Regions from separate parts of the Homo sapiens genome. Here region 1 is linked to region 2. Evidence: fine-mapped expression QTL. A gene starts in region 2. The other region holds a variant in brackets. All regions are shown on one strand. Distances are between the middles of the regions.

Region 1 (4,407 bases), 23 kb before region 2:
AAACATTATGTTGGGAACCAAAACCAGCCATTTTCAGATGTCTTCAGCTGAGAATAGCATTAGCAGCTGCATGCTTCTTCCTCGTAGGCCTTACTGTGACAGTAATGAATTTGACATAACAAGAAGTGGGGTATATATGAAGGTGAGAGTCAGCAGTGGAATCCTGTAGACTTCAAGGAAAACATACAAAGCCTTGGTTTGGGGGCTTGAGCATTCTTAAATATGCTTTTGCTTGAAGCAATGTATTAGGATTAGTTATAAAACTAGTTCCATCAGTTATTTGGATACTTGACATTTTTGCTTTGTTGTGAGAACTGCCTGAATTTTTCATACTTTTTCTCTTTTTAGATATGTGATTCTGTTGGACTGGCAAAACAGATAGCTTTGCATGCTGAACTGGTAAGAATCCAAGATGTGGCTGGGCACAGTGGTTCACACCTGTAATCGCAGCACATTGGGAGGCCGAGGCGGGCAGATGACTTGAGGTCAGGAGTTCGAGACTAACCTGGCCAACATGGTGAAACCCCATTTCTACTAAAAATACAAAAATTAGTTGGGTGTGGTGTCGTGCACCTGTAATCCCAGCTACTGAGGAGGTCTGAGGCACGAGAATGACTTGAATCCGGGAGGCGGAGGTTGCAATGAGCCGAGATCACACCACTGCACTCCAGCCTGGGCAACAGAGCGAGACTGTATCTCAAAAAAAAAAAAGGAATCCAAGATGCTTGATTTTCCAAGAATGTTAACTAAAATAGTATATTAGCTCTTTCATATTAGCAAGTAAATAAAATGATTTTGCTAAGCAAGGTTAACAGTGATACTATTACCAACATAGCATTTAGAATTTGGATAATTGTTTACCATTGAATATAAACTGTTGATGTGCTTTCTTATGTATAAATGCAAAAAAATATTGAAAGGTTACCATGTGATATTAACTGAAATGTCTAAAATTTAAAGTTATTTCATATTTAATTCATTAGTTTTATTCATCTGTTCTTTAGGATCGTAGGGCATCAGAAAAACAAAAAGAAATAGAGAGAGTAAAAGAGAAGCAACAGAAAGAACTCAATAAACAAAAACAGATTGAAAAGGTATACAGTCCTAATGTCTGGATCTTTATGTGTTGTTTGTGAAGACTTAATTCAGCACTATGACTTTCAGATTTGAATTTCCAAATGAAGGGCTGTTTCTGCTTGTTCAGCCACTTCATAAACAGATGATTCATACCATAGCAGAAAAGGGTCACATCTGTTTTTTGATATGATGTTTACATTATAGTTACGTTGACATGTAATATGACTGTTTCAAAAATATACCAGAACTTTAATATTTCAGAGGAGGTTGTCTCTGTCAAAGCAGTTGAGAGGCTGTGTAGACTTAACTGCCATTGCTGAAAGCCATTTTGCCTTCTATGGGGGGGAAATAAATAAATATATATGTTATATGAAATATATAATGAAATGTATATTTTTAATATTGCCAGGAGTGTCAAATCATTGTCCATCCAACAGAATAATTTTAAAAGACAAATTTCAGAGCAAAACTTGAAGAATGCATTAAATGATCCATGAAATTGTAAGAGCGTGTTATGGGTTGTAGATTGACAGTAGGAATAGAAAAGAGGAGACAGCTGGGATGCTTAGAACAGATCAATAAGCATTGGCTGTGGGCTGGCTCTCTGGACAAAGAAGAGGGAAGTGGCAAAGATGACATTGAAGTGAGGCTTTCTTGATAGGCGAGGCTGAGGGAAGGTGACACCTGATTTAGCAAAGATGAATTGGACAGGGATGGAGAAAAGGGCTGGAGAGGGGAAGGGAAAGGAGTGTGGGGGTGATCCCTTTCGAGGGTTTTACTATAATATATAGTGAGAGATGATTGATGATGGGCTTTATTTGGTTGTTGGTCATAAAAAAAGAAAGATAAAATATTAGATTTTAGTTTGAATGCTGGCTTTTATAGGATGGTGCCAAAATTCATTTTGGTGTTGTATTGTTTGGGTGTAGCTTTTCTTTTTATCAAGTTGTCAGAAGTATGCATACATATTTATGACAGAAGAAGTGGCTCTCAAGAATGTATCTTAACTGCATAATTTGCCATTTGACTGCAGACAAGTAACTTAGTTTCTTTTTTGTCTTTTCCACTAGGACTTGGAAGAACAAAGTCGGTTGATAGCTGCTTCCAGTAGACCAAACCAAGCCAGTAGTGAGGGGCAGTTTGTTGTCCTTAGCAGTAGCCAGTCAGAAGAGAGTGATTTGGGAG[A/G]AGGAGGAAAGAAGAGAGAATCAGAAGCATAAGCTTATACTTTTGGTAGATATTCCCCCTTGGAATTTGACAGTTTCTATGGTGAAATGGCAGAAGGTAACAACTATGTTGAAATATCAAGGAGGAGATTAAGCTTTATATTTGCTTATTTGTTGTAGCTACATTTTAAAAAAAAGATTGAACTTGATGACTTAGGTTTGCATTGATCTTTTTTCCCCCTTAAACATAATGTACTATGTATTAACATCTAAAGGAAACCTGCTCATCTCCCTGAAGCAGACTGCTGAGGAATTACATTTGCTCAAGAATTTTTTCCGTCAAATTGTGAACTTTTAATTCTTGCATTGTAATTGGCTGTGTCCATAAGAAATCATTTATTCTTCAGGCTTAGACATTCATGGATATGCTTTTCTTTCATTAGGAACATTTTGCTGGTGATGAGGAAGCATTTAGCTGAATAAGTTTAAAGCCCTTTATACAGAGAATTCTACAAGTTTGCAAATATTTTAACAATATTAAATGTGCAATAGAACTTTTATAAAATAATTAGAACAGAGATTTTACAGTTAAGGTTTCAAATTGTGGCAGGTGGTACTGTTGATCTCAGGGTACTTTCTGGGATTGCTCACATTTCTCTAATGTACTGCACTTGATGCCAGTAGGAAAGAAGCTTAAGTGTCTTCAGTTCAAGATTGATAGAGCCCTTGGCATTTTATTATCACATTCTTAGTTCTCAGGTTGGGACTTCAATTACTGCTGCAGAGCAGTAGTGGTTAAAAATAAGATATTGGAATTTATTAAAAGATTTTTGTTCAATACATTTTAGATTAGGATTGACAAGTAAAGATACTGCTATGGAATGATACATTGTATTTTCTGCATTGTGTGAAATAGTTTTTATTGAAAGTCAAGTGACATTTCAAAAGAAGTTCTATAACAATTATGTTTCATGCTTAAAGTAAAAATTCCCAGAGTTTAGTTTAGAAAATGTAATCTTTTAAATTTCAGACTGATATATTCCCAGTATTTTCATAATGCCATGTTTTGATAAAGTACTGAATCACCACTTTATATCCACAAAGGCAAATAACTAATGTATGATAATAGAATAATTTGCACTAATTATTGTAAATATGTCTACTCTTCAAATGAGTAAAAGGTCCAATTTTGTGAAAGATTGAAAATGAATTGAATGCCTAGTAGAGTATAGGAGAAGTTGACCAAGGAAGGATTTAACCTGGTGCCAAGGTTAAAATAACATTTCTCTACTGCCTATTGTTTATGTTAAACCTTAATTTTTTTTCTGTAATCACTTTTAACACTGCTAATAGAAATTATGTTTTCATGTGTTTCACATGAAAAAGTATATATATACAAAGTTAATATAGTGGGTAAAATACTTTACATAGTCACACATTTACAAATTTTTCAAGAGGTTAGCCACTAAGACTTTAATAATTTTACAAGGGAAAAAGCCTTTTTTTTTCTTTGATATACAGTTTTTTCTTCTTAGTTCTGCATTAGAAATGGCATCTGTTTTAGGTCTCAAAATATAACTCAGCTGTTTCACACTGTATATGTACATTGTTTTCTGTAGGAATAGGATAATGATATATAGGATCATGATATTCCTTCTATCCATGTGCCAAATGGGTGTAATGTTTATTTACTGATGCTTTATGTTACCAAAACATACAGTAAAAAAGTAGAAATTTATGAAATACTTTTGATAAAAAGTTTATTTTGTGCTTACCAAAAGGAATGCTTTCACAATAGTGTATCAGTTCTTTTGTTTTGTTAAAGTTGGAATTTATTCTGTTGCCAGCATTTAAGTAGTCATGGCAAGTCCTGTTTTTAAGACCTTTTGGAGACTGGAGCTTTCTGTTCCATTAAGTCTTTTGTTTATACTACAAATTGTCACCTCACTTAGTTCAGATGAAATCTGTTACTCTACAAGGAAGGTGTTCATCATTAGGAGGCAGCTTTACTAAGCTGGTGCTTTGCATGGTAGCAAGTGCTGCCCTTTATCAGCACCCTGGGTCATAGTGTAGGCTAGAGTTAAGGCACTGGCAGACTTAGGGATGCTGGACAGACCTGTAGTTCGTTTTAAGTCATGTTCACAGGAATTTCTACAATAATAAACCC
Region 2 (4,343 bases):
CTCTGTTCCTTCTGGAGGCTCTTGGGGAGACTCTATCTCTGCCTTTTCTAGCTTCTAGAAGCCACCCACATTTCTTGGCTGGTGGACTCTCTGCCTCCATCTTCAAAGCCAGCATTGTTGGGCTTAGTCCTTTTAACACTGCCATCTCCCAAGTTGTCTCTCCTGGCTCCCCCTCTTTCACACTTAAAGATCCTGTGTTACACTGGGACCACCTGGGTAATCCAGAGTACACCCCCTATCTAAAAGTCAGCTGATTAGCAGCCATAATTCCATCTGTAGCCTTACTTCTCCTTTGCCATGTAAGGTTCCAGAAATTAGGACATCTTTGGATGGGACCATTACTCCACATGTCACAAGTATGTTCTAGTTTTCTAATTCCTTCAAGTACCTGACTAAATCAGCAAGCCTGCCTAAGTATCATACACTTCCTGCAAATCTAATCAAGTAAATGCATAACCACAGTCAATTTCAGTTTCTCTGAAACATTTCAATACTCTCCTTAGCCCAACTCTCTTATACCTTTCAACCTAAAATTGTAAGTTCAAAGTCAGTTACTCAATTATGCAATTTAAGGTTTTAATCATAAGGTTAATATAACAGATAATCTAATAAGGCTAATTTCTTTACAAAACTTTAAATATTTAAAGATTATTTTAAAAACTAATCCTAAATTGAACACAAAAGTATAGGAATAGTGTGTGGCTAAGAGCACAGACTTTAGAATCAGACTGCCTTGCTCTTCACTTACTAGTTCTGTGACCTTGGGTAAGCCACTTAACTTTTCTGTGCCTCACTTTCCTCCTCTCTAAGTAGGGATAATAATAGGACCTACCTCATAGAGAGGTAATGAGAATTAGAATTTAAAAGTTAGTATTTATGAAGTGCTTAAAATAACATGACACATAGTGATCACTCCATGGTTTGTTACATTTTAAAAATACTATATAGGTTTGATGTACTTCATTGTCTCTATTTAGTTATGAAATCTCTTGGGGTTAAAAGACATTTTTCTAGTTTTACATCCAGCAGGCAAATAGAGATTACCATCCCAAGTAAACTGGGTTATCACCCCTGAAAAAATGATGGTTACTGCCTCAGGAGACCAAGGTTGCTGATTGGCCAGCGAGCGTGTGAGCAGGTGTGCCATATCCAGGACGATTCTTCTTACACCCCACACAGGGTCCCACTGGTCCTTTTTCAGTGTTGTCCAACAAAACTCTGAATCTACACTTTCAGAAGCCTTGTTCAAGTTTATGTAATTCCTCCTTTTGATTTGAGTAGATCAAAGACTGGACCCCATCCCCACCTACCCTACTAAGGTTGAAGATAACTAACTTTCTATGTGTCCCGGTTGGATTTATGCATTTCTTCAATTCCCAAAGACAAGATGTATTAGTTTTTCTCTAGCCCTTCATATCCTCCTTTCTTTCTTCTGATTTCCAGTCTGTATCACCTCACCCAGATTTGCTGCTAACCTCCTTCAGATATTTTTATTGCCTAATTAAATTCTGAATTATTTCCAGATTATTCCTGTCTAGTTAGGCATAATATCTTACAGATATTTAATTGACAGCTCCTTGGATTCTGACCCTCCTGTTTTTGTCACAACACTAGAGTTAAGCTAATGACAAGTGTCAGCTGTTGAATACAACACTTAATACTATATTGCCGATGAGAAAACCATTACCTCTCATCCTTAGGTGCATGTTGTGCTGTTCCTGGCTTATAAATATCCTGCAAACTCTGTTGAATGATGAGCTGGGTGTCAAAGTCTTCATCTATGTCTTCATCGCTGGTGTAATTATCCATGTGAAACGTGGACAGGTTTACTTTAAAGTCAGAGTGAATTAAAAGTATTTTTCCAGTTGTGAAGAGATCAACTGCTTAAAATTACAAATGAAATTCAGAAATCTAGAAAATTGGTAGGATTAACAATGAAAAATATACAAAATTTAGGAAACAAAATATTCACTAAAAAATTTCTATAAACTTAAAAAAGTTTTGTGGACTGCCACAGATTCAACAAAAATTAGAAGTTTCCATGAGTAGCCATTGACTTAAAGCTTATTCAGGAAAAACCACCTTTCAAATAAGACTTCGGTTAGTGCCACTCTAACACTGACAACACTCTGATCTGTTCAACTTGGCTGTGAGTCTTTCACAGTGATTGTAGCACTCATCCAAAATAATATCTTTCCTACACACAGTGTGATGCTGAAAATAATATTTTACTTAATATACATTAAAAATAAACATGTTATAGGAACAAATGTATTCTCATAATTACAACATGGATACAGCAGTAGTAAAAACAAATGTATCTTACTAGGCAATATCTAAATGGTTTTAAAAGAAAAATGTCAGTTTTAGCATAGAATACATTTGGTCACATTTCAAAGACTTTTTACCTTTTGTTTTATCCTCTAGGACAGCAGTGAAGTTTTCACTGTTAAGGACTAACACATGTAAGCCTCAGAATTTTCATTTATATTTAGGCTCTCCTCTCCCCTGTAGTGACCATTCCATTAATAGCTTTACTATAAATACTTCATCATAAGACAGTTTGGCACATTCTCCTTGTTTTTTACATGTGGTTTAGCTCTTTTTGGAAACATGATCTCTTTTCTTCAGTGCTACATTCATCAAATTTAAAGGATTAAATATTTTATTCCTGGAATAAAATGCTTTTGCAGGGGGTTGGCCATGCAAAGAGAATTCATGCACATAGCCACTGCAAACCACAATCAATTTTTCACTTAAGAGAACCCAAACATTTTGCTCTGACCCAATTATCCAAAGTGACTGTCCCAATGTACTAGATTCACTAGGTAGCTGTGACTACATTTTCCTTGGGTTACAGAACTGTGGCCTTCAGTGTCCTTGGAATCCTAAGGGAAGAATTCACTCTACACAAGATAAAATTTTGATCAAAATTCTGTTTTGTTGAAATATTTTTAAATTGTTAATATACACTAAAAAAAGCAAAGGGACCACTTGACATTTCAAATTAAATATGAAGCAAATGCCGAGAAGCACACTGTCACTGCAGGTGTAGAAGTTCGGACTGCCCTCAAGCCATCCTACTGCCTTTGCAGGCCAACTTCGCAGCTTTGAGTTTCCTTTCCTAGTCACAAGGATGCAGTGAGAAATGGAACCGATGTCTTAGAGGTAAGAAATAAAGAGGTATAGTTGGGTAACTTTTAATATTTTCCATATTTATAATTTCTTAATTTATGTATTTGAAATATTTATGTATAATTACTTTAGGTAGGAGAGTGGAAAGTAAACTATACTGAAGCTGAAGGAATGACTTAACATTTGTGAAGGAGATAATTCCTGATATTTGTTAAATGTTACCGTTTAACCCCCAAATCTATTTTTCACATACAATCAAACTTCAAAAAGTTCTCCTCAGAAAGGAGAACAATGCAATGAGTGTTTGCAAAGATCATTTAAAAGAATAACACCAAAACACTTGGTTTTATAATGTATATATTTTAAGTAGGACAGGTTTTTTTTTTTTTAAACTTTTGGATGTTTTATAAATTTGTCCAATTTAGTCATCCAACTGACAAAGCAAAGCAACCCCGCGCTTGATCCAGTGCCGAGTAGGTTGGTCTGTTTTTAACAACATTGCAATGACAAAGTTAGTAGAATGTCCCGTAGTGGAAAGAGTTCCTTTACGTTCACTTGTCTTGTAGAGGGGACAGACATAGGCATCCGACTTTATAATCCGAGATTTTTGAGCTTGAAAAAAAAAAAGAAATATATTCACTTGATAAAGGGAAAAACAGCCATTGGTACGAAAAGAACTATTTATCTTGTAATAAAATGGCCAGAACTAAATCTAAGATCATAATTGTGATATATGAAGGTTTTACAGCATATATATTTTTTTACAGTACATATAGTATTACGGTTGTGAAACAAGGCAAGTATTTCTTTTCTTTTCTTTTTTTTTTTTTTTTTGGAGACTGAGTCTCACTCTGTCACCTAGGCTGGAGTACAGTGGCACAATCTCGGCTCACTGCAACCTCTGCCTCCCAGGTTCAAGCGATTCTCTTGTCTCAGCCTCCTGAGTAGGTGGGACTACAGGTGCCTGCCACCATGCCTTGCTAATTTTTGTATTTTTAGTAGAGACGGGGTTTCACTATGTTGGCCAGGCTGGTCTTGAACCCCTGACCTCGTGATCTGCCCGCCTCAGCCTCCCAAAGTGCTGGGATTACAGGCGTGAGCCACTGCGCCCAGCCCAAGGCAAGTATTTCGTATGGTGCATGATTCTAGGTGTGGAAGACAGGAATAGACTTTAAAGTTCTGACCGCTTAGCAGGCATGAGAAAACTC

What was found.
Region 1: its variant is fine-mapped to the expression of ASB14 in unexposed skin (GTEx, PIP above 0.99). The same link has a PIP of 0.9 or more in sigmoid colon, subcutaneous fat, sun-exposed skin and tibial nerve.

What each region holds. Positions count from the first base shown.
Region 1 is chr3:57,267,394-57,271,800 of GRCh38, forward strand. It overlaps APPL1 (adaptor protein, phosphotyrosine interacting with PH domain and leucine zipper 1), which reads left to right. Exons shown (of 22, transcript NM_012096.3): 20 at 349-399; 21 at 1,005-1,094; 22 at 2,148-4,407. The coding sequence ends at 2,294. ASB14 (ankyrin repeat and SOCS box containing 14) reads right to left here. Exons shown (of 11, transcript NM_001142733.3): 11 at 949-2,225. LOC105377102 (a long non-coding RNA gene) reads left to right here and starts at 2,173. Exons shown (of 3, transcript NR_135535.1): 1 at 2,173-2,358. The variant A/G (reference allele first, on the strand shown) is at 2,263.
Region 2 is chr3:57,290,225-57,294,567 of GRCh38, forward strand. It overlaps ASB14 (ankyrin repeat and SOCS box containing 14), which reads right to left and starts at 2,461. Exons shown (of 11, transcript NM_001142733.3): 1 at 2,409-2,461; 2 at 1,688-1,880. The coding sequence starts at 1,809. It overlaps DNAH12 (dynein axonemal heavy chain 12), which reads right to left. Exons shown (of 74, transcript NM_001366028.2): 74 at 3,476-3,747. The coding sequence ends at 3,557. It overlaps LOC124909384 (a long non-coding RNA gene), which reads left to right and starts at 2,567. Exons shown (of 2, transcript XR_007095923.1): 1 at 2,567-3,168.